4 linked regions of the Homo sapiens genome follow. The protein of the gene in region 3 interacts with the protein of the main gene of each other region in a pairwise test. Each region holds a gene or a part of one and is shown on either strand. Other genes may lie near its edges. The genes, in order: SAR1A, TMPRSS2, CLEC7A and TMPRSS4.

Region 1 (7,036 bases), on a different chromosome or scaffold from region 3:
AGACTAACAAATTTGAGCAAAAGGTATAGAAGAAAATATACTGGCTTAGGGCAAGCCTAGTTAAAATGATGAAATAATTACTCTTGTTGAAGCAATACATATATCTTTTAACATATTTTCCAGTTACAAGGTAAATTACATTAATAAGTAAAAATGTAGTAAAGATTAAAATGGCAAGATGCTGTCCTGCTTTGTAAAAATTTTCAGTCAAGATTTGAGTTGAGTTTGGCTATATCAGGCAAATACTTAAAAGTTCATGAATAGTTATACATTATGGCTAACTTTATCCCAGCTCAATAGGGTAATATTGAAGGGGACTTCTGTGTATTATTTAATGCAACTTTTGACAAGTTTGAAATTACTTAAAAAAATAAATGAATAAAACAACTTCACTAAAGTAATAAGATCCTAATTCTAAAATGTAAGTAATTTAAAAGGTAAAAATGACACACTGCTTTTAAAAGGAGCTGGGAGGCACAAAAAAAATAAGTCAATAAACATGCTTTCCACTGAGTCATCACTTACCTTGCTCGTGCCCACCAAGATCAAAAGTTGTAAAGGTCATTCCAGCAATTGTTAGCTCTTCTGATGCTGAAAAATTGTTTAAAAAGAAGAAAAAAACTTGTCAACTCAACAACCCCCAACTACTAGTACTATAAGCCAATATCAATGCTTTCATCTTGTAAAGAAAAAGATACAAGAAGTTGAGTGTGGTGGTACCCGCCTGTAGTTCCAGCTACTCAGGAGGCTGAGGGCAGGAGGATAATCTGAGCCCAGGATTTTTGAGACCAGCCCAGGCAACGCCCCACTCCCAACAAAGAAAAGGAATACAAGGGTGAAATGTTCTTAAACTATTCTAAAAGCCAAAGGTTTCTTTTCTTCCAAGCTATTTTCCACTTCTTAGAAGTAGGTATAGGAGAGGTGTCCCTTTACAGGACCAGTGACAACAGATAATGACAAAGTTCCAGAGGTTTAGATCTGAAAGTACATAACCTGAGTGTGTCTTACAGGGAACTTTCTCGTATGAGTTGGCTTTTGGGACTTCAGTTAATAAAAGAACTCCACCAACTAGGGATTCATCCTCCACGCCTAACACTGACCTTTAAAGATCAAAAGGTCACCTGATATTTTCAAACCTACTCGGATGTAGTGTTGGAACATGTTGGCCCAATCTGTCATCTTTGAGCATGTGAAGAAGAGTGGTTTTGCCTGCATTATCCAAACCTAAGAATACAAGTTTTCCAGATTTCTTGTACAGTCCTAAAAGAGAAAAAAATTGTTAACACATTTGCTCTCTACAGACCAAAGCCTATTTGTAGTTAAATTACTGAGGGAAAGGCACAAACTTTGAAACCTGTATTTCAAGGAAATGGCTTTACCTAGGAACTGGAGCACACTGCTGAAGCCATTGTAGATCCACTCAAAGATGAAAGACATTATTAATGCTTACTACCTGTATAAAATATGAAAGTAGCAAACATTAGCTTTCTGAATGACAGTACAATTGTGGAGAGGTTAACTCTTGTTCCCTAGCCATGATGCACATTTATAGTCTCTTGTTTTCGGGAATAAGAAAGCAGGCCAGGCATGGTGGCTCACACCTGGAATCCCAGCATTTGGGAAAGCCAAGGCAGGCGGATCACTTGAGCCCAGGAGTTCACAACTGGCCTGGGCAAGAAAGCTGGACTCAATCTCTACAAATAACTAAAAAAATAGCTGGACATAATGACACACACCAAGAGTCCCAGCTACTCAGGAGGGTGAGACAGAAGAATTACTTGAACCCAGGGGTTTGAGGCTGCAGTGAGGCATGACGGTGCCACTGCACTCACTTGGGCAACAGAGGGAGACTCTGATAAAAAAGACAGGACAGGACAGGAGAAAGGAAAGGGAAGGGAAAGGGAAAGGGAAAGGGAAAAGGAAAGGGAAAGGGAAAGGGAAAGGGAAAGGAAAGGAAAGGAAAAGAAAAGAAAAGAGAGGGGAGGGGAGGCGGGGCAGGGGAGGAGGGGGAGGGGAGGAGGGGAAGGGGAGGAGGGGATGGAAGGGGAGGGGAGGAAGCAAAGTAAAGAGAAACTAATATTCTTTCTTGACACAGATTTTGCAATCTGGAGGAGAGTCTAGAATCCTTATATGTGCAAAAATAACTTGTTTCCTAATAGTTTTTGATCTATGATACTCAGAGAACTAGGAGTTAAAAATATAAAGGCATACCTCATTTGATGATACTTTGTGGATCCTGAGGTTTTCTGGTTTTTTTACAAATTGAAGGTTGGAAGCAGCCCTGAGTTGAGTAAGTGTATCAGTACCATCTTCTAACAGCATGTGCTCCCTTCATGTCTCTATGTTACATTTTGGTAATTCTCACACAATATTTCAAACTTTTTCATTATTCTTATATCTGTCATCATGATCTATGATCAGTGATCTTTGGTATTACTAGTATAATTGTTTTGTTGTGCCACAAACCACAACCATAGAAGACAGCAAACTTGACTTCCTCCACAGTCCTGCCCCCACCCCAAGCCTCCCTATTCTCCAAGTGAAAGTAACAGGTCTCTCCCTTGAAAGCAAAAGTTAGAAATGATTAAGCTTAGTGACGAAGACACATCAAAACCTGAGATAAGCCAGAAGCTAGGCCTCTTGCACTCAACAGTTACCCAAATTGCAAATGCAAAGGAAAAGTTCTTGAAGAAAATTAAAAGTGCTACTCCAGCAAACCCATGAACGTCAAGAAAATGAAACAGCCTTATTGCTGATAAAAAATAATAATAAAATAAAAACACGAGGTAAAAAAGCAAGTGCTGATGTAGAAGCTGCAGCAAGATAACTGATGAAGGTGGGTGGCTACACTAAACAACACATTTTCAATGTAGGCAAAACAGCCTTCTATTTGAAAAGCCATCTAGGACTTTCATAGCTAGAGGGGAGATGTCATTGCTTGGCTTCAAAGCTTCAAGGGGCAAGCTGACTCTCTTGTTATGGGCTAATGCAAGGTGACTTTACGTTGAGGCCAATATTCATTTACCATTCTGAAAATCCTAGGACCCATACTCATTTACCATTCTGAAAATCCTAGGACCCATACTCATTTACCATTTTGAAAATCCTAGGGCCCTGAAGAATGACACTAAATCAGTCCAAGTGGAGCAAGTGAGCGAGCAGAGTGGTTGTGTGGTTGCGTCTCGGAAACCAGTAGCACTTGCAGCATGGCTGACCAACTGACTGAGGAGCAGATTGTAGAATTCAAAGAAGTTTTTTCACTATTTGACAAAGATGGTGATGGAACTATAACAACAAAGAAACTAGGAACTGTAATGAGGTCTCAGGCAGAATCCCACAGAAGCAGAGTTACAGGACATGATTAATGAAGTAGATGCTGATGGTAATGGCACAATTGACTTCCCTGAATTTCTGACAATGATGGCAAGAAAAATGAAAGACACAGACAGTGAAGAAGAAATTAGAGAAACATTCTGTGTGTTTGATAAGGATGGCAATGGCTATATTAGTGGTGTAGAACTTCACCATGTGATGACAAACCTTGGAGTGAAGTTAACAGATGAAGAAGTTGATTAAATGATCAGGGAAGCAGATCCTGATGGTGATGGTCAAGTAAACTATGAGTTTGTACAAATGATGACAGCATAATGAAGACCTTGTACAGAATGTGTTAAATTTCTTGCACAAAACTGTTTATTTGCCTTTTGTTTGTAACTTATCTGTAAAAGGCTTCTCCCTACTGTCAAAAAAAAATATGCATGTATGGTAATCAGGACTTCATTCCTCCATGTGTTCTTCCCTTACTGTCATTGCCCTGAAACCTTATTTTAGAAAACTGATGAAGTAACATGTTGCCTGTGGCTTACTCCGGATATATCTAAGCCCTTCTGCACATCTAAACTTAGGTGGAGTTGGTCAAATAAGGGAACATCCGGGTTATGCCTTTTTTTAAAGTAGTTTTCTTTAGGAACTGTCAGCATGGTGTTGAAGTATGGAGTTGTAACTCTGTGTGGACTACGGACAGCCAACAATATGTACTTAAAAGTTGCACTACTGCAGAATGGGTGTATTATCCAGGTACTCCCAGGTACCTCACACACTGTTTTTTCTGTACTGCTGGTCCTGTACCAGAAACATTTTCTTTTACTGTTACTTGCTTTTTAAACTTTGTTTAGCCACTTAAAGAAAATGTGCTTATGGCACAATTTGCCTCAAATCCATTCCAAGTTGTGTATTTGTTTTCCAATTAAAAAAATTACAATTAAAAAAAGAATTATACTAAATCTACTCTGCCTACCACACATCTGTTTACAGCATGGTTTACTAAGTATTTTAAGCCCACTGTGAAGACCTATTGCTCAGAAAAAAAGATTTGAAGATATTACTGCTCATTGACAACGCACCTGGTCACCCATGGGCTTTGATGGAGGTGCAGAAAGAAGTTAATGTTGTTTTAATGTCTACTAACAACATCCATTCTGCTTCCCATGGATCAAGGAGTATTTTCGATTTGCCAGTCTTTCATTTAAGAAATATATTTCCTTTGGGAGGCCGAGGCGGGCGGATCACGAGGTCAGGAGATCGAGACCATCCCGGCTAAAACGGTGAAACCCCGTCTCTACTAAAAATACAAAAAATTAGCCGGGCGTAGTGGCGGGCGCCTGTGGTCCCAGCTACTTGGGAGGCTGAGGCAGGAGAATGGCGTGAACCCGGGAGGCGGAGCTTGCAGTGAGCCGAGATCCCGCCACTGCACTCCAGCCTGGGCGACAGAGCGAGACTCCGTCTCAAAAAAAAAAAAAAAAAAAAAGAAATATATTTCACAAAGCCATCAATGCCATAGACTGATTTCTCTGCTGGATCTGGGCAAAGTAAACTGAAAACCTCCTGGAAAGGAGTCACCATTCTAGGTACCAGTAAGAACAGTTATGATTCACGGGAAGAGGTCAAAATATCAATATTAACAGGAGTTAGGAAGACAGTGATTCCAACCCTCGTGGAAAACTTTGAGGGGTTCGAGACTTTGGAGGAAGAAGTAACCTTAGATGTGGTAGAAACAGCAAGAGAACTAGAATTAGAAGTAGAGCCTGAAGATGTGACAACTGCTGTAATTTCATGATCAAACTAATGGATAAAGAGATGCTTCTTATGGATAAGCAAAAAAAGTGGTTTTTTTGAGATGGAATCTAGTCCTGGTGAAGATGCTATGAATACTGTTGAAATGACACCAACAATTTAGAAAATTACAAAAACTTACTTGAGTTTACATAAACTTACTTGAGCAGCAGCAGGGTTTAAGAGGACTGGTTCCAATTTTGAAATAAATTCTGCTTTGGGTAAAATGCTATCAAACAGCATTGCATGCTACAGAGAAATCTTTCTTGAAAACAAGCATTAACTGATGCAACAAACTTCCTTGTTGTCTTATTTTAAGAAACTGCCACAGCCATCCCAACCTTTAGCAATCATCAACCTGATCAGTCAACAGCTATCAACGTGGAGTAACATGGAGGTAAGATCCCCAACCAGCAAAGAGGTTATGACTCGCAGAAGGCTCCGATGCTTGTTAGCATTTTTTAGCCATAAAGTATTTTTTAAATAAGGTACGTATTTTCTAAGACGTAATGCTACTGTACACTTAACAGACTACAGTATAGTGTAAACGTAACTTTTATGTGCACTAGGAAACCAAAATATTCGTGTTACTTGCTTTACTGTACTTGTTTTATTTCAGTAGTCTGGAACTAAACTCACAGTATATCCGAGGTATGCCTACACTTTCTTTTACTGTGTGACTTACTCCTCCAGGCAGCGGTTCATTCACATTCCCTAGACATACGACTGCTGTCATCCAGTGAAGAACAACTCTAGGAAATCAGTCTTATCAATAATGTGAATCAGAATGCCACTTAGATGCACTAAATAGAAAATAAGAATGAAAAGCACATTGATTTGAATGAAAAACATATTAATCTATCCTGTAAACAACTCTAAAAAACAAAAGTCACCCAAAATTCTACTGGCCAGCACCACTTGCCCTGCTCCATTTACCAATGTTATCTCAATATTTAATCATTTTTGCAGACACGGGTCTCAATTTATAAAAAGAAATGACATCACTATTTTAGAGAACCATTAAGGGATAAGAAGAGAATCTTTTCATACATGAATAATCACACCCAAACTCATTTTACAAATAGATTTTCTTAAAATAAGAATACTTATTCAGGCCGGGCCCCCGTGGCTCACACCTGTAATCCCAGCATTTTGCAAGGCTGAGGTGGGGGATTCCTCCCTGACCTCAGGAGTTCAAGACCAGCCTGGGTAACATAGAGAGACCTGCATCTCTACAAAAAAAAAAAAAAAAAATTAAAATTAGTCAGGCATGGTGGCACGTGCTTGTAGTTCCAGCTACTTGGGAGGCTGAGGCAAGAGGATTGCTTGAGCCCAGGAATTTGAGGCTGCCGTGAGCTATGATTGTGTCACTGCACCCCAGCCTGGGTGGCAGAGCAAGACCCTGTCTCAAGAAACAAAAAAGCAAAAAAAGAATACTTTTCAGGATATAGCAGTAAGTTCCCAAGCCAGTAAATAACTTAACTGGTACTGATATTAACACTACTTTTTCTATTGTTTCTCATAGCTATCAAAAGCTACTAAAAGGTTTACATATATTGGTAATAAGCAAAATGACCTCTGAATGAAATTAAGAGGGTAGGATCTAGACACACTGGTGGGTCTTAAGGTTTCTCAGCATTGTCTGGCCATGCTGAATTTTTGCTTTAGTATCTCAGATGCGGTGCAGAAAAATGGAAGGTCCACACTTTTACTCCTCTCCATCAGCAGGAGCATCTGAACACAGGGCTTTATACTAGATATGACCAACTGCATTCAAAATTTTCATGAACAGTAACCAGTAAAAGCATTACCCACAAAAAAATCCCCTTACATTCAAAGAATGCCAGATGAAGAATAAAATGAACAGCTGGGCGCGGCAGCGCTTGCTTGTAATCCCAGCTATGCAGAAGGCTGAGGCAGGAGA
Region 2 (7,036 bases), on a different chromosome or scaffold from region 3:
GTTATCAACAGCATCGAGTAATGATAGGTATCTGGAATGTTCAATATGACCTAGAAGAAAGAATTACAGGACTGTAATATTTCCATACCAGTTAGTTTTTAGAAGATAAATCTGGAAAGAACTAGAAGAATCTCTAGATGAAGGTTACCTACAACAAAGACCAGTGTTGCCTGCTGACCTTTGGCCTGCATCTTCACCACTGCTTCCCCACATCCCTCCATATTTAAGGACTTTGGGACCCACTTGTGCCTTAGAGGTTACAGCAGAAGCACTCTCCTCTGGGATCAGAGTGGGTAGGAGGATGGGGTGCAATTGTAAGTGCAGCGGCCAGGACAGCCTGACCAGAAAGAAGAAGGAACACACTCAGTGACTCAAACATCCATCGGGAAGGGCTCTCAGGGGACTGCCTGGGGCTCAAGGCCACCCACAACTCCAGTGCCACTAAGCCCAGGCATCCTGCTGGACTTAACCCAGTTCTCACCAGGAAGCTGTGATATCCCCTATACAGAACATCTACTCAAGGGAGACTGTATGGCATAAAACACTGAAGAAACACGACAAGGTAACTAAACCCATCAATGTCAGCAGAGATTAAGGACAAGATGGGCCCAGGAGGGAAAGACCTGGGCCAGTTCCTGGCAACACAGCTCCCTGGAAGTGTCGATGTGTGAGTTACTGAACCTTGTTGAAATCTCAGGGTCCTCATGGGAAAACGGACAAAGCAATCACCACAGTTGTGTTAAGCTGAGGGTTGTGGGAGAGTGGGGAAAGAGTGCCTCACAGTACTAGGAACTGAGGAAGAGCAGGTGCAATCAGACCGTCTTTCCCCGAGAACGTCCACAGGCACTGCCAGTAGCCACCCACTGCCCAGCGGGTGGTTCAGGGCTCAGCACCAAATACAGCTCACAGTTGACTTTTTAAAGCAGGCCATGTGGGCCCTCTCAATTTTTAATAGATACATACGCTTAAAATAATCCATAAAACATGTCCACAGTCACTCCATTTACTACCCCAAACCCAAAAAAGAAAGAAATTCAGAGCCAACCATTTTGACCACTGCTAAGATTAGCAGTAATGAAAAGAAAGCTGTGGGCCATTTTGCTTGTTGTCCTTTGTGAACAGTTAACAATAATAGCTAGAGATGCCGTCAACACGAAATGCTGTATAGTAAAGCCGCATTCTGACATCACTCTCCATGGACAAAGATTCTTCGCTTGATCAAACTTATATCAAGCTCCTGAACCTTCTAGGCCATCTGTGCATTTCCTTGTAAAATCCAGTTTTAGCAAAAAACCTTGCTCAGTCAGTTTAGCCAGAACCTCCCACCCTCGGTATCTGATCACTCTGGATATCTGATCGGGTTCCTCAGCCTCCACCGTGCCACAGGTGATGTCTGATCACCCAGCCTGTCTTCAGCAAGAATCCTGTTTGGTTGGTTTAGCCAGAATCCCCCTTACCCTTGATGTTTTCTCTTTGTGATTTTTCCACCCACCAACCCCACCCTGATCCTTGGTTATAAATTAACTCCCACTTGCCCATACTGTACTCAAGCGGATCCCAGTCTCTTCTTCCCACTGCAAAATCTGCTGGCTGTGGTCCCTGTACCTGCCTCCGTGGTCCTGAATAAAGTTCGCTTCACCATTTTAACAAGTCTCATTGGACGATTTTTTTTTCTTTAACATGCACCTTCCTGAGCAAATAAAGGGCTTTTTTCCACCCCTTCCCGCTTGGCTTTAAATGACCAAAGAATATTTTAAGAAACGGGGTTCAAGATTATCCGTCCACAAGACCATGTTCCCAATGAGGGAACAAGAACCTGGAGGAGGCTCTGGGCTTCGGACCTGGCCAGACCAGTGTCCACTGTCTGTGACATGGCCACAGAAGAATATTTCCCAGTTGCTGGCACAAAGCAGGTGCTCAAACAGCAGCAGGCAGCACTGGGCAGCGGTTCAGCCCCTGACCTCTGAGACTAGACTCTAGATCCAAACTCAGGCTCAGCCACTCACTCTCCATGACCTGGAGGAAGCTATTGAAGGTTCTGTGCCTCAGTTTCCCCATCTGCAAATGCAGATAATAGTAACACCTACCTCCAGGGCATTCCATGAGTTAATACTAATGAAGTGCTTCATGCTTAGCATAAAATGAGTGCTATATAACTTTCCATTAAATAAGAGGAATTATAAAGCTGATAAACATTTAACAACCTGCTGAAGGAAAAGAGGGCTGTCTTGATTCGCAGGTTTGCCTTCGGTAAGTATTCCCAGGCTACCAACATGAAGCCCACCACGGAGCCAAGTAGAGTGGGGCCGGCTTCAGTACACCATCGCTTTCCTGTGTCCTAAGCAGAACTGGTTGCTGAATCATTAAACTATAAAACCCCAACAGCCTGCCATGAATGAAAATGAGTATATGGCTTTTTAGTCTCGAGAAACCTCACCCAACAGGTTACAACAAACATGCACCAATCATTTATTTACTCTTCAATTACAGATAAAAATACAAGAACCAGGTCATGTTGTAGCTTTGGGACTTTTTCTAGGATTAAAACTAAAGTTCACACCTTCCTGGGTATAAGGAAAGGAAAGTGACTAATGTACAGGTGGGAAGGATCACCATTTAAAATGTATCAAAAACGTTTAAGCCTTTTAGCCACATCTTAACAGACCTTGCCTATGTCTGCTTTGTGAAGAGAGAGGATCCTCAGGCTTGACAACACAATAAATCCCGCATTCTTGTCTCATAAGCAGGACAGAACTCAGTACCATCCTAAGATTGCTTTCAAAGAGTCCTGCCTAACCAAACACATCCTCATGCCTCTGGTTTCTCGGCTGTCCTATCTCCCCAGTTACAGGTTTGGTTGAAGTTTCAGGAAGTGAAAATTCGATCCCATTGGCAGCTCTCCCAGCTCAGAAGCCCTCTGAAAGGAGTGAAGAATCAATACTCAAAACCCACACTTGCTATTCATTCACGATCCCTAACAAGGAAGCCAGGGAAGGAAGGAACACCGGGAGCCACCACCATTAATTGTCAAATAAAAGCCATGGGACCCAGAGGCAGTCACAGGATAATCCTATCTCTTCCAGCAATCAGAACATGATAAACAAAAATATTCCGTGTGCCCAAGTCAGTTACCATGGACTTTGGAATGGAAGACCAGAGTGATGCTGCCAGTAACATTCTCCAGCTGGGCCGGGCACGGCGGCTCCTGCCTATAATTCCAGCACTTTGGGAGGCCAAGGCGGGCAGATCACCTGAGGTCAGGAGTTCAAGACCAGCCTGGCCAACATAGTGAAACCCCATCTCTACTAAAAATACAAAAATTAGCTGGGTATGATGGTGGGTGCCTGTAATCCCAGCTACTTGGGAGGCTGAGGCAGGAGAATCACTTGAACCTGGGAGGCAGAGGTTGCAGTCAGCCAAGATTAGGCCACTGCACTCCAGCCTGGGTGACAGAGAGAGACTCTGTCTCAAAAAAAAAAAAAAAAAAAAAAAAAAAAGAAACAACAACAACATTCTCCAATTGAAAATAAAACAAGGGGGGGAATGTCCCGCTCTGACATTAGATCTGCAAGGGGAAGCACTGCTGTCCCGAAAAGACCAGGAAATCACATTCAGTCCTGTTCATCTTCAAAACAGGCATTTCCTCATTCACACAAGCTTGTACATCGCATTAACTCATTTCTGAAAGGAGCAAGACGTAAAGTAGATGGCGAGAGACAATGCTGTTTAGCGAATGCTTGCTCCTGTCATTTAAAGGACCGGGATGATGGCTCTCAATTCTGGAAAGCCAGCCACCATGAGCACTTGGGGAAATTTTCCTTTAAGTGTGAAAGAGCAACAGTGGGTGGCACTCAGGCTCCATTCCTGGCTGGCAGGGAGCTCTTCCTTCAATACAGACAGTGTCACCCACTTGAATCTCACAATGGCACACAGCTGTCCTCGCACTGTTTTGGTCCATCCTGGACTGAGAGCTGAGTCAGCCCATGAGTCACCTGCCTGGCCACCATGCAGCAGGACGATGCTGTGGCATCGTATCCGCATCCCATGACATGATGAAGTTACTGCCAAAACAAGAATCTTTTCTCCTAGTTTCTCTCCTCTGGAGATCTCAGGACACGTTTACTGGAGACTTACTTTCCAAACAACCAAGCCAACGCGAATGAAGTTAGGCTTGTAGACACTGACTCCCACCCAAGATCCAGGGGTATTCTCTGCAATGAAGTCTCCACTGACCTCACCGTGCACCATTGTGCACACACCTTCTCCTTCTCGAAGCCCCCACCTGTGACTGGTACGGTTCGAGTTGCTGGAGGTGTGAGAGGGAACAGACAGCCTCAGACTCAGTGCCCCTTCTTCAAAATCCAGACAGCACCACCACCACCATCCACGGACACATCCCAGCCAATGACCAAATCATCAAAAAGAGCCCTTTATGCCAAAATAACCGCACTAATATCACATTATACAACGAGATGTTCTATCCTCCTAAGGATAGAATGCATGACTAAATGAGTTAGCCAACAGTGGATTTCAGTGGCTGTTCAGCAGAAACTTGTTTATGTATAATCAGGTAAATTGCATACACAATGATTGGCACAAGAGTTCTACTGAGAGAGAAAGGTTGAGCGAGAAACAGAAAGATCACCTTAGGAGAGGTATTGCCTGCATCATCCAAGTTTCTTTTCCTGTGAATGACTCATTGTCCCAAAGAGATTACAAACTTTTTAGGGCAGATATCAGGTCTGGTTCTCTCTCTTTCTGTTTGTTTTTTAAATCTCACTTTGTAGCTTACAAAGACAGTATTTAAATGTTTTTATGGAGTTCTTACCACCTGTACCCCAAAAACTATTGGGGAAAAATTAATAAGCATGTTTGGCAAAGTTGAGGGATACAAGATCAATATAAAAATCTATGTGTTTTTATATACCAACAACAGACGATCGGAAATGTAAATTTGAAATACAATGCAATTTGCAGGAAAAAATATATATTTTTTGAGTTCCAAAGGCCAAATGAGTAAGATGAAATTTAGCAGAGGGCGATAAGATGCCCACACCCAGACAACACCAGCAGCCCAAGTCAGGACAGTGGGTGACCTCCCAGGAGTCCAGGTGCCTCAAGCTGAGTGCAACCTGGCATGACAGGCAGGCAGGCGGCAGAGGCCCTCAGGTCACTCCAGGCGGAGACTTCAACACCACACACAAGCCACTGGCTGAGGCTTAAAGAACTTGTCCAAGTCAATCTGTAAAATGGGGATGATACAGAAATAGGGTTGTTGCAGGGATTAAGTGAGAAAGCAAGGCCGTAGCTCAGTGCCCAACCCATGGTGAGCACTCAATAATAACATAATGATGGCAGATAAGGTTTATCTTCCAACACGTAAGAGCCGGCTATGTGGAAAAGGAATTCAGTTTATTCTGCATACATCCAAAGGACAATACCAGAATCATGATCAGAATTTCCAGAAGAGCAGGCTTGGATTCTATCTGGGGAAATCAAGGTTCCAACAATTAGAAAGTTCACATATGGCCTGGAGCTACCTTAGAATGTACCGAATTCCTCAAACCTAAAAATGTATGTTTCAAGACTGGAGGATCATTTCTCCAACATATTCCAGAACAGAATTAGGCTTGAGCATCAAGACCAGACATAGTGATCTTTCATATTACTCCCAACTCCTTATAAATGCATCATCACCAGTGAACTTGAAAATGTCAGCAAATTCTCTGTTATCAGTATCTTGCACAAAGAACTCCAAGCCCATCGTCCCTAGAAAGCATGGTCTCCCATGACCCCTGGGCTATACTGCAGTGGGGTCAGGCTGAGTGCCCCGCCAGGACAGCCCCTTGGAAAGCAATGGCCTTAAAGGGAATTTGACACTGCATTGTGCACCTCGTACAAACAAGCAATAATAAAAAGCCTCAGCTTAGTTCCATCTGCCAAGTCAGACCTCGCTTGAAAATATTTTTCTAACAAATCCAATTGTCACAACCTCTCATTCTGAGTCCCACTTGACAGCCCCGATTTTTCCACCTAGTCTGCCCTTGAGTGAACTTCCAGACTTCTGCTGCCACAACCACAAGCCAAGGTGCCCTTCAAACACTTCCTGCTTTCTTACCACAACTCTGTGCCCTAAACTCCTCCTGCCCTCCTGCCATGGATGCCCAATGGCTCAGCGCCATCCACACATAGATGTCAGAGCCCTCACCTCCCTCTCCCAGACTCACCTCCAGGAGGATGAAAAGCCTGTCTTCGAGTTTCCTGCCCTCTCAAACTTCACTCTGTTTACAACAAAAGTAACCACCCACACCCCTGCCAGAAAACCAGCCTCGACTCCCAACCAGCGCATTTCCACTCATTCAGTTCCTCTCTCCTGACCATTGCTCAGCAACCAGGAATAACCAAGTCCCAGATCAGGCTCTGCCTCCTCCTGGAGCCCAGCCTCTGTTCTAGGTCATGCTGAAGAGCTGCCTGTGTGCTCAACCAAGCTGCTACCCTGTCACAGATCCCCCTTTTGCTCCTCCTTGGGTGTCCACAGGCTCGGTGGGGCCAAGGTGGTCAATGGCCATGGGGACATCATAAGCCCCCTTCTTCACACCCAGGCCCATACCCCTGGTGCTTGCAAGTCAGGGCTTCCCAAATCACCCTTAGGGCCAGGAGGGGCCCCACAAAGGCTGACTCCATACAGGCCTCAGCTCTCAGGTACATAATGCTCCTGCACCCCAATCCTGAGGCCACGCAGTGCATCCCATATTGGAGGATCCCCTGGCAGGTGTCCTGGAAAGTAAGGAGGGGCGGGGAAGAGTAGCAAAGGCCTGGTGACTGTGGGATGAGGGACACTCAGGGAGTGCAGAGCAGGAGGGACCAGAGAGCAGAAATGCACCTGGGCCTTCAATGCTCCTGGGCTCTCTGGTTCCCCACAGGGAGCTCTCCCTGCCCTCACTCTCCCCACTAGCAAGGCCACTTTCCAAGTCTTCAGCAACCAAAACTGAACAAGCACTCCATTGACCATTCACCTTTCCTTTCTACCTCAATG
Region 3 (3,959 bases):
AAAATACTAGATATCTCTTCCAAACTCCATCCTATGCTTTAACTACTTAAAACAGTTAACCATACTCCTCATGTTCTCAGCCTGATCTATCTCTTCCCTTTCTTTTTTTATGTTTATTATACATTACATCATTTATTTATTTATGTATGTATTTTTAATTGTACTTTAAGTTCTGGGATACACGTGCAGAACGTGCAGATTTGTTACATAGGTATATATGTGCCATGGTGGTTTGCTGCACCTATCTATCTCTTCCCTTTCTACATGTTTTTAAGTAATGAAAACAAATTTGCATATTAAACAACAATAGTAAACCTCACAAAGATCTTTATCTTCTCTTAGGTTTTTAAAATTTTTAAGATCGCGAATTAATGCTTTAATATCAAAATATCTACTATAAATATCCACTCCACCCATACCAAATTCATCATCATTTTTGGGGAGAGGGCAAATTGTAATAGTGATTGTGACACACAGGCACATAATTTAGAGGCCATGGGTTTTTTGATAAGAGTTTTTTTTTATTGAAATGAAATCCACATAACATAAAATCATCCATTTTAAACTGCATAATTTAGTAAAATTGGTACAATTTCTTTTCACATATTAATCAACATTAGAGGACTGTAAATGCCTCCCTAGTAATACAGAAATATCCATTGGAAATAAAAATAGCACCAGTGGGAAAGTATGAAAAAAATAAGACAAATCAGCACATGAGGAAATATAGTTTCATTCCAATAATACCATTTTACAGTAATTACTGAAAAAAATGGTAAAAATTGTAAAACAGTACATCACAAAACTAATAAAACATATTCCAAAATGTTAATACTTGTTCCAATGAGGTTGGTTACTTTTTTATATTCATCATCAGATTTTATGTATTTTTATGTATTTTTGTATTTAAAAAGCAGAAAACTTTCCTATGAGAGCAGTTTCCCTACAATTACATATTATACAAGATTCTAGGCTGGGTGCAGTGGCTCACGCCTGTAATCCCAGCACTTGGGAGGCCGAGGCAGGCAGATCACTTGAGGTCAGGAGTTCGGGACTACCCTGACCGACATGGAGAAACCCTGTCTCTACTAAAAAAATACAAAATTAGCCGGGTGTGGTGGTGCCTGACTGTAATCCCAGCTACTTGGGAGGCTGAGGCAGGAGAATTGCTTGAACCCAGGGGGCGGAGGTTGCGGTGAGCCGAGATCGTGCCGTTGCACTCCAGCCTGGGCAACAAGAGCGAAACTCTGTCTCAAAAAAAAAAAAAAAAAAAAAGATTCTATTAGAGATATGGCAGATGTACTCTCTGAGCTATTTAATTGATAAAGAAAAAGTAGGAGTTCCTGCTTTTTACTAAGATGATAATCATAATTATGATCATACTGATGAAAATAATAAAATTGCTCTGACTGTGGTGAAGATTTTTTCCCATTTCTTCATTTAGCTATTCAGAAATATATTTCACCCTCAGTTCATAACTGATATACTGCTAGAAGTTGAGGGTCAAATCGTGGCAACACACCGTGCACTTCAATGGCATTGTTGAGCATGAAACAACTCTGATAGAGCCAGAAATTAAGATTCGCTTATGGCTTACCCAAGGTAAATGCCAAGTCAATGGCAGAATGAAAATTCAAGCTTGGGGCCAGGTGTGGTGGCTCACATCTGTAATCCCAGCACTTTGGGAGGCCAAGGCGGGCAGATCACTTAAGCCCAGGAGTTAGAGACCAGCTTGGTCAACATGGCAAAACCCAGTCTCTACAAAAAACACCAAAAATTAGCCTGGCATGGTGGCATGCACCTGTAGTCCCAGCTACTTGAGGGGCTGAGGCGAGAGATAGCTGCAGTGAGTCGAGATTGTGCCACTGCACTCCAGCCTGGGTAACAAAGTGAGACCCTATCTCAAAAAAATAAATAAATAAAAAATAAAAACTCAAGCTTGGCTGCCCTGATTCCATGTCTAGGGATCTACTAACTAGAAAAATAATACTAGCCTACCTGTAGGTCGACAAATACAGAAATCACAGCCTCTCCCTTCAATTTCTTGGTTAAGATTACAGTTGGCCAAGCTCTCTAAACATTTTCTGCATTTATCTTGACCTCAGCTGTTACTCTTTTCTGTTCTGTTTTCTGTCCTCCTTACTACCTCACATATTTCTCTCTCCTTCTCCACCCTTCCTCTTACATTGAAAACTTCTTCTCACAAATACTATATGAGGGCACACTACACAGTTGGTCATAAATGACTGACACGTGAATCCATACACAATTTGGAGATGGGTTTTCTTGGGTAGCTGTGGTTCTGATCTGAAATCTGTTAAAATAGAATACAGTGAGGTAATTAGAACAAATGTTAAGGAATACTGTCTACATGGCGCACAAATAAATTAGTAAGGATATTGGTGAAAAGAGTTCTGAAGTGTTTCTATTATTGGAAAAGGAGGCTTAAATCTAAATTGTTGTGAATCTCAAGTGGTTAAATGAATAGTCTCCATTATTAAGGCAGAAAAACGACTTAATTTTTTTTCAAGAACTGCTACTAGCTGCATAAACTAAAAAAAAAGTTCCTGACAAAGAAGAAAAATCATTTAATATTCTATAAAAAGTTCTTTATATATCTTTCAGCCTATTACTTAAATGTTTCTTTATCAAATCAAGTAACAGTTTAATTAAATTATTACTGGATATACTTAATGAGTAGACCAAGCAGAAGCATTAATGCTAAAACAGATCTAGAACTAAAAAGAGAATCAGAGATGCCCAGGCCATTTAAAGGCAGGGCAAACAACTCTGTATATTTTAATGTATCCTGGAAGCAGAATTATATTACAATACAATGCTTGACAGTTATGGAAATCAACACTGCTAAATGCAGGCATGGTCCTGTTCAGTTTGGTCTTCAATCTCCTTAAGTAGCAGTGTTAATGAGTCAAGCTCAAAGAGCATCACTGACCGTCAGTGCAAAAGCTATGACTTGGCACTCTTTGTCCTGGTTATGTATCTCTCCCTCTTGACCCTGAGGTTGGAAGATTGAGAAAACTTTGCTTTAGCGATGACTAAGGCTAAGATTAACTACTTAGATTCAGACCTCAGGGAGAACTCTGACCAGCATTATTCCTTAAAAATTTTCCTTGACCTATAAGTGTTTTGGGGGCATAGACACAGCTAGATTAAATAAATGCCACCCGGAAAACAAAAAAGTAGTAACATATCAAAATGTTAACTTGGGCCCACTTGTGATTATAGAAAGAGTCCTCTAGTCATACATTTAAAATAGCAAGAGAAAACTCAAGACAAACAAGTACTATAAGAAAGTAGAAAATACATTTGGCTGATAATAAATTCACTGTACTTAGCCTAGTAGAAGTAAAACAGTTAAGTGATTATGCTCAGCAGTTTGTACTGTTCACACTATTGGGTGAACAGACCTGGTGGTGAGAACAGAGGCAAATGAAAAAACACTTCAAATTAATTCTACAAAGATTTTAAGATAAAATGTTAACAACACTATAAAAAGCAATCTGACATAAGAGAAAACTAATCAACACAAAAGAAAAATAGTAAAAAAAAAAACAAACAGAAACAGATACATATAGAAAATTGGAATTATCAGACACAAGCTAAAACAACTATGGTTAGTGTATTCTGAAAGTTAGAAGACAATACTAAGAATGTTGGAAGAAAAAGTAGAAGTATACGTGTTGAAATAATAGATTTGAGAAAGAACTAAACTAAAATTATAAAACTGAAAATGTCACCAAACAAAATAAAAGACTTAATAGAGGCTTTTAATGGTAGATTAGCCACAGATGAGAAAAAATAGATGACCGGAAGATATGTGAAAGGTTATTACATAGATTGGAGCAAAAAGCTAAAAAAGAATGAAAACACAGGAAAAAGCAAAAGAAACATATAGGATGGTGTCAATGGGTCTGTAATGAATGTAACTGGGATTCCAG
Region 4 (6,864 bases), on a different chromosome or scaffold from region 3:
CCTCCCAATCCCCAGCCCCATTTAGAGGCTGGCCAATGAAAGGGGCTGATTAAATGGTGTCTGGCTGGAGCTTCTTTTGGTGGGGGGGGAGTGGTTACAGTGACACCAGGCCCTGTCACCCAGGTGGCAAAGGATCCAGGAGAGCAGGCAAAGCAAGCAGCCCCTCCTTGCCTGTCTTGCCCTTTAGGACCTTCCCACTGCCCAGCTCAGTTTACCACCTCAGAGCCTAGGATGGCACTGCCAGGGCCGAGTGGGCTTCTGGATTCTGTGCCCCAGTCAGGGTGGACCCTGCAGTGCTCCCAGCACCCCGCTGCCCGCAGGCTGGCTCCTGACTGCCACGTTTCTGAGCCCAGCCAAGCCCAGCCAAGCCCCTTGACTCTGTACCAGGCTGGCACGGAAAACAGGAGGTGGGAGGGAGGACCAGCTTCCTCCAGAGCAGCCGGAAGCGTCAGGGGGTTGACCTCAGGTGTTAACACCCACGTCTGGTGGCTCAGGGTGCGTTTAGGTCTCCGGAACAGTAATGAGTCAAGGCCAGGATAACCAGTCCCAGGGTCCCTGACTTCCCTCCAGGCCTCAGCTATGGAGTAGTTAGCATGGGACACATTTCCTTCGGGGACAGGGCTTGGGCTCTGACCTCTGCCTGGGCCTGAGTCCCTGCTCCAGCTCTCCCTAGGAATACCCAGCTTAATGGGTTCTTGGGAGAGCTGTCATTAAGACGCAGCAGCTCAAAGGACCCTGACTGTCACAGAAAGGGGCCTGTGGGGATGGAAGGAGGTAGGGAATGGAAGGGAAGGGAAGGGAGGGCTGAGCCTGGGTGTGGAGATCCCATCCTCCCCTCAGGGCTGGGAGCTATGGCTGTCAAGGGTTATTAAGCACAGGCTTAATGACAGGGTTATTCAGCACAGGCAGTATAATGGCTAGCTCCGGGGCTAGAAACTTCCTTGACCACACCGTGGAGATTGGCCATGCTGCTGCCTTGCCTTTGGGGCCCCAGGCCTGACCTGACCCCTCCACCAGTGTTCCCACCTGCCCTCCCCCGCTCCTCCAGCAATGCCCAGCTCCTTCCCTGGTGGCAAAGGGTCTGTGTTGGGTGTACTACCCAGCTGTCATTTCCTAGCACAGACTCCTCTTTAGTCCTAAGTCCTTACATCTGTGCGGGGCTTCATGGTTTCCAGAACCTACTCACATGTATTAGCTGTGTAATCTCTGCGAACCCGGTGCATGTGCGTGGGGCTGTTGTGGGTCATATCGTTTCCGTGGGCAGGGGAGAAGGTGAGTCTCGGGAAGATGAATGCCTCAAGACAGCACAGCTAATCAGGGAGCTGGCCTCAGCCTTCTGATTCTGCAGTTAGTGACCTGCCCTAGAAATGATTCCCTTCTCTGTTGCTCCCCCAAGAGACACCCCAGGTCTCCTCAGTGCCTGCCACCCAGAAGCAGCTCACAGCTAGGTAGACTCCACAGCTGCTCTCCTCTCCTGGGAGCCCCAGGGGATACAGCGTCTCTGCACACAGGCCAAACTTTGGGGCGCCTCCTTGGATGGGAAAGCAGGAAGCTTGTGCTTTGATCCTGGCTCAAAGGGAAGCCCCTTCCCCTTTCTGATCATCAGCTACAACCGCACTAAGAATTGTTCTTGCCAGAATTTTCAGAAGAGTGTCGTGGGAAGTGCTCAGGTTGGGAATAGGAGACAATCACTCGAGGGGCCCCTGCAGGTCACACCCTTCCCCCTTGGACAGTGGCTTCTCCTTTCCTCTCTTCCCTTCCCTTTCACTTTGGTGGCTGGGCAATTGCTGCCTCTTGGCCAAGGACTGGAGAAGGAAGACCCCTGGGTTCCTCCTCAGACCCAGTTATTATCTCTTCCCCTCCCTGGCCCTCAGCTGTCCTCCTTGAAAGATAGGGTTGATTCTCTTTGCCCCAAGACAGCGAAGACGCTCCAGGTATTCAGAGGAGGAGGAGAGAGGGTGAGGGCATGAAAAGAGACCAAGTAAAAGATGACCACAAACACCCTAGATTGTTTGGAGGCATCTCTGCACTGTTTTCTTTTCCTTCTTTCTTTTTTTTTTTTTTTTTTTTTTTTTTTTTTTGAGACGGAGTTTCACTCTTGTTGCCCAGGTTGGAGTGCAATGGCACAATCTTGGCTCACCACAACCTCCGCCTCCCAAGTTCAAGCGATTCTCCTGCCTCAGCCTCCCAAGTAGCTGGGATTACAGGCACCTGCCACCACGCCTGGCTAATTTTTTGTATTTTTAGTACGGATGGGGTTTCACCATACTGGCCAGGCTGGTCTCAAACTCCTGACCTCGAGAGATCTGTCTGCCTCAGCCTCGCAAAGTGCTGGGACTACAGGCGTGAGCCACTGCACCCAGTCTACACTTTTCTTTAAAAAGAAAAGGAATCAGTTTCCCCAGGGAGTGGCAGAGGGCAACCGTGGCATCAGAACAGCCCCCTGCCTTGGAAAAATAGTGCCAACCTCTAACCAACAGACCTGGAGACATTGGGCAAAAGAACATGCAGGATTCAGGAAAGAATAGTCGGGAAGGACAGCCCTGGCTCTGTGCTCAGCTTCTTAGGTGAGCTGGTCCAAGGACCATGGCAATGGAGGAAGAGAGGAAGGCAGGTGGGTATGAGACGTGTACCGGGCTGGGGTGTGAGGGGATTTGGGTGTGGCCTCTTTTTTTAACCTAGAAGGTGTCACAGAATTCTCAGCTGATGGATGCTCAGGCTGCTTGAAGGGCCTTACATGGGGAGACCCACCCTTCCTGTGTCTTGGGAGCAGAGGGCCCCACACTCACCATGCTGGCTCTGTGATCCTCCCGGTCTCCCTGTAGCCTGGAGCTGAGATTGTCACCCCAAGGCAGCAGGAGGGCCTCCCCACACAGGTCCTGGCTGGCCAGCAGGTCAGAAGTCCCTGGTCAGCACTGGCTGGAGGAGGCCCGAGTGCAGGGCAGGCCTTGGTCCCTCACGCCCAGCATCCTTGTCCGCTGAGCAAGCTGCTGCCTCTCTCTGTGTATTCCAGGAGTGATTGGGGGACTTTGGGCAGCTTGATTAAAACAGCCCTACAAGTGAAGTTGCCAAACTGGAATGATTATGTGTCTTGTAACCTGACACCTATCTTAGGGGCTGGAACAACACCTGAAGTCATTCATGGGACCTTCGGCCTCAGAACAGGTGACACACCTAAGGCGTAACAAAAGCCTTCCCGCCTGAATGACTTCCACCCAACTGGGTGTTGGCTGAGGGTGATGCCAGAAGTTTCCGCCCCCCCTCCCCCTACCTTCTAGGTGCATGACTTCTCACTGTGTGGGTGCTTTGGTTTGGGGTTGTGGGAAGTTGGAGTGGTCTGGGGGTTGGGCGACAGGGTTTGCAGCTCAGTACAAAGAGATCATTGCCAGGTGTGGAGCAATAGGATTGGAAAGTCCACAGAGAAGGAGGGAGTTTCTTCTCTTAGGGAGGTAAGATGTACCCCCTTTCCCTGGATCCCAGAAGTGAAGCTGTCCTGCACAGAGCCAATGTACTAGTGCTTCCTGCCCCTGCCTCAGCAGCCGTTCAATATTCTGAAAATCACTATTGGTGCTCTGGCTAGAGCCCACGTCTCCTCGTCCACGGAGTCATTTCCTTCTTTCTTTCTTTCTTTTTTTCTTTTCTTTTTTTAAGACAGGGTCTCTCTCTGTCCCCCAGGCTGGAGTGCAGGGGCGCAATCTCAGCTCACTGCAACCTCCGCCTCCTAGGTTCAAGCAATTCTCGTGCTCCAGCCTCTCGAGTAGCTGGGACTACAGCCACCTGCCACCACACCCAGCTAAGTTTTGTGTTTTTGTATTTTATTTTATTTTGAGACAGAGTCTCTGTTGCCCAGGCTGGAGTGCAGTGGCGCGATCTTGGCTCACTGCAACCTCCACCTCCCAGGTTCAAGTGATTCTCCTGCCTCAGCCTCCCAAGTAGCTGCTGGGATTACAGGTGTTGTGCGCCACCATGCCTGGCTAATTTGTATTTTTAGTAGAGATGGGGTTTTGCCATGTTGGCCAGGCTGGTCTCAAACACCTGGCTTCAACTGATCCACCTGCCTCAGCCTCCCAAAGTGCTGTGATTATGGCGTGAGCCACCGCACCCAGCCCCACAGGATCATTTCTGATTCACGTTCTGCCACATCCTGATAGCTGGAGCTGCCCCCTGGCCAGGGGATGTGCAAGGTGAAACCTTACAGCCACAGATATTTTGCTGGGAGAGACTTGGATAATTGTCCACATTGTTCCCCCATTCTGTGGGCGACAAAACTAAATTCCAGAGAGGCAAAGTCAATGACCCAAAGTCACATAATGAATTAGTGTCTGGTTCCATATGAATCCAGATCTCCTTCCATTTCTCAGACCTGACCCTCCCAGGAGACCAGCCTGGGTTAGACGTGTGTATTTGTCCTTCTGTTGATAACGTGCTTCTGTGTATCAGCCCTTTAATTCTCCAACAACAACCCCAATATTTTGTTCCCATTTGTCAGCTGAGGAAACTATAGCCTATGGACATGAAGTAGTTTCGGGCAGAGTTGGGGCTGGAACCTGGTTCTCTTACTGGTTCACACTGCCAGGCTTGTGAACAGGCTGAATGGAACACAAGTGTTTGAAAGCCCCAGGTTCATGGTTTGGGATAATATGGCCCATGGAGGACCCCAGTGATGTCTGAGCAGGAGGAATACCGGATCTGTGTAATGGATTATTGGCCAAATCTCAGCTGATGAATGCAGTGTGGCCTTGGACTTGTCTCTGAGCAGCAGAGATCTGAAGCTGGCCTGCAGGGCTCTGGAGCCAGCACAGCCCCAGCCCTTCCTTACTGATGGCTGGTGGCCTTGAGAGTTGGAAGTCTTGGGCAGAGGCAAGAGCCTGTGATCTCAGGTGACCTCAGGGTCAGGGCCGTGATGGTCCAGGCAGGCACCTCCCCAGCAGCAGGGCAGTGAGAAGCCAGTGGGCCACTGGGAGCCACGTTTTCAGTTGTCTTGGTTCCTCTATGTGCCAGGCTAAACATCTGGCCCACAGGTTTGCATTGCTTTACCTGGTGCTCAGGTGATGAACCAGGAAAGAGGCAGCTGTCTGGGCATGAAGGCTGCTGGGCATGGCTGGTTGGAGGGATGATGACTCAGCCCTCCTGGCTTCTGCTCCCATTTGGGTCTGGGAGTTTGTGGAGAGGTCCGGGAAGAAGGCACATAAGCAGGACTGGGCAGGGTGGCTGTGATGCCTGCAGGTGGGGGTGAAGGTTTACAGAGGGAGGCACAGTGGCCTGGAGACAACAGAGGCCCACCTCTCCCAGGTGCCAGGGAAAACCAGCTGGACCAGAACCCACATTCTTTTTTTTTTTTTTTTTCTGAGACAGGGTCCCCCTCTGTTGCCCAGGCTGGAGTGCAGTGGTGCAGCCTCAGCTCACTGTAACCTCCACCTCCTGAGCTCAAGGGATTCCCCCGCCTCAGTCCCCCAAGTAGCTGGGATTACAGGTGTGAGCCACTATGCCTGGCTTATTTTTGTATTTTTTGTAGATACAGGGTTTCACCATGTTGACAAGGCTGGTCTCAAACCCCTGAGCTCAAGCGATCCACTCGCTCTGGTTTCCCAAAGTGCTGGGACTACAAGTGTGAGCCACCGCACCCGGCCCAGAACCCCCATTCTCCCGGAGGAAGCCTCAGCTCTCCCTCAGCCCTGTCCTGCCTGCTTCTTTCTCTTGCCCATCCATCTCTTTAGATCCTCCTCCTGTTTTTCCTCTCTTCTTTCCCTCCCATTACTTCTCTTTTATCTCTTCCTCTTTATTTTTGACATTTTTTTCTCTTCCTTCTTCCCTTTCCTTATCTGTTTCCAGCATGTGTGTCAAGATCCGAGGCAGAGTTATCATGAAACTCCTGAAGCTGAAGCTTCAGAGCCCCTCACTTGCACGGTTCCTTCCAGGGCCCTGGGAAAGGGCCCGGCAATATGTTCACACAATCATACGTTTTTGTAAATTTTGCTGAATATTTCTTTGACGTGCTTTTTCTTCAAGAAAGCCCCTCAAGAAGTGGCCTATCCCTGTGAGTGAAGGCCAGAGCCTTCCTCACCCAGGCTGGTCCCATACAGGTGACCTCAGTTTAAGGACCAACAGGTCTCGTCCAGCTGAGAGCTCTATGCACACCAGATTCTGAGAGGTGTCAGCAGCACTTTAAAAAACTTTGTTGTTTGTTTTCTATGAGGTTTCTGGACAATGGTCTGAGCTCAGACACGTTCTGCAGGAGAATATTATTTCTGTAAAGATGGTTATTTAACCCTCCTCCACCCCATCATGGCGGCGCTGCTGAGGGCTGACCCAGAGGCCAGGGGAACTCGCTGGTGTCCATGGGGGAGGTCCAAGGCCTATTGCCACAGCCCTCCCGCCTTGCACAGCACAGAGGCGGTCACCCCAGGGACAGGCAGGCACCCGGCTGCTCCTGTTGCCCTTCCTGGAGGAGGGGGCTGCCTCCTGTCCCTGCAACTGCTTTCCTTATGGGCCAGCCTGACGCTCAGACTTGTTTGAAGCTGCACCGGCAGCTTTTTTGTCTCTTTTCGGCATTCACAACAGCCGGGGACTTGATCTGGATGTATTTTAAACCACATTAAAGAGTCTGTTGCTTTTTGAAAAAAACCAAGCCCCTCAAAATGCATAAGCTTCAGGCCTCTCAAAACCTGAATCCTCCCTGGTCAAGAGCTTGAGCTCTAGTGGCCTGGGGTCCTGCCTCCTAATCTCAGCCACTAATGATTTGCGTAACCATGGGCATCTTATTTAATCCTCTTGCACGCCATCTTCTTCATCTGTAAAGTGGGGATAACAATACTTCTGACCTCATAGGGTTGTTATGAAGATTAAGAGATAATCCTGGCTGGG

Evidence for each region.
Region 1: the proteins of CLEC7A (region 3) and SAR1A interact in binary tests that used the Homo sapiens proteins (3 or more experiments, as listed by UniProt).
Region 2: the proteins of CLEC7A (region 3) and TMPRSS2 interact in binary tests that used the Homo sapiens proteins (3 or more experiments, as listed by UniProt).
Region 4: the proteins of CLEC7A (region 3) and TMPRSS4 interact in binary tests that used the Homo sapiens proteins (3 or more experiments, as listed by UniProt).

Annotation. Positions count from the first base shown.
Region 1 is NC_000010.11:70,160,479-70,167,514, forward strand, and holds part of SAR1A (small COPII coat GTPase SAR1A), read right to left. Parts: intron 2,282-7,036; exon of another isoform or gene 2,212-2,281; intron 1,454-2,211; 5' UTR 1,438-1,453; coding exon 1,380-1,437; intron 1,261-1,379; coding exon 1,141-1,260; intron 592-1,140; coding exon 526-591; intron 1-525. UniProt on the Homo sapiens protein: Small GTPase that cycles between an active GTP-bound and an inactive GDP-bound state and mainly functions in vesicle-mediated endoplasmic reticulum (ER) to Golgi transport.
Region 2 is NC_000021.9:41,498,140-41,505,175, forward strand, and holds part of TMPRSS2 (transmembrane protease serine 2), read right to left. Parts: intron 51-7,036; coding exon of another isoform or gene 1-50. UniProt on the Homo sapiens protein: Plasma membrane-anchored serine protease that cleaves at arginine residues. Participates in proteolytic cascades of relevance for the normal physiologic function of the prostate.
Region 3 is NC_000012.12:10,116,277-10,120,235, forward strand, and holds the end of CLEC7A (C-type lectin domain family 7 member A), read right to left. Parts: intron 2,315-3,959; coding exon 2,182-2,314; 3' UTR 501-2,181; downstream 1-500.
Region 4 is NC_000011.10:118,073,231-118,080,094, reverse strand, and holds the start of TMPRSS4 (transmembrane protease serine 4), read right to left. Parts: upstream 3,018-6,864; 5' UTR 2,793-3,017; coding exon 2,790-2,792; intron 1-2,789. UniProt on the Homo sapiens protein: Plasma membrane-anchored serine protease that directly induces processing of pro-uPA/PLAU into the active form through proteolytic activity.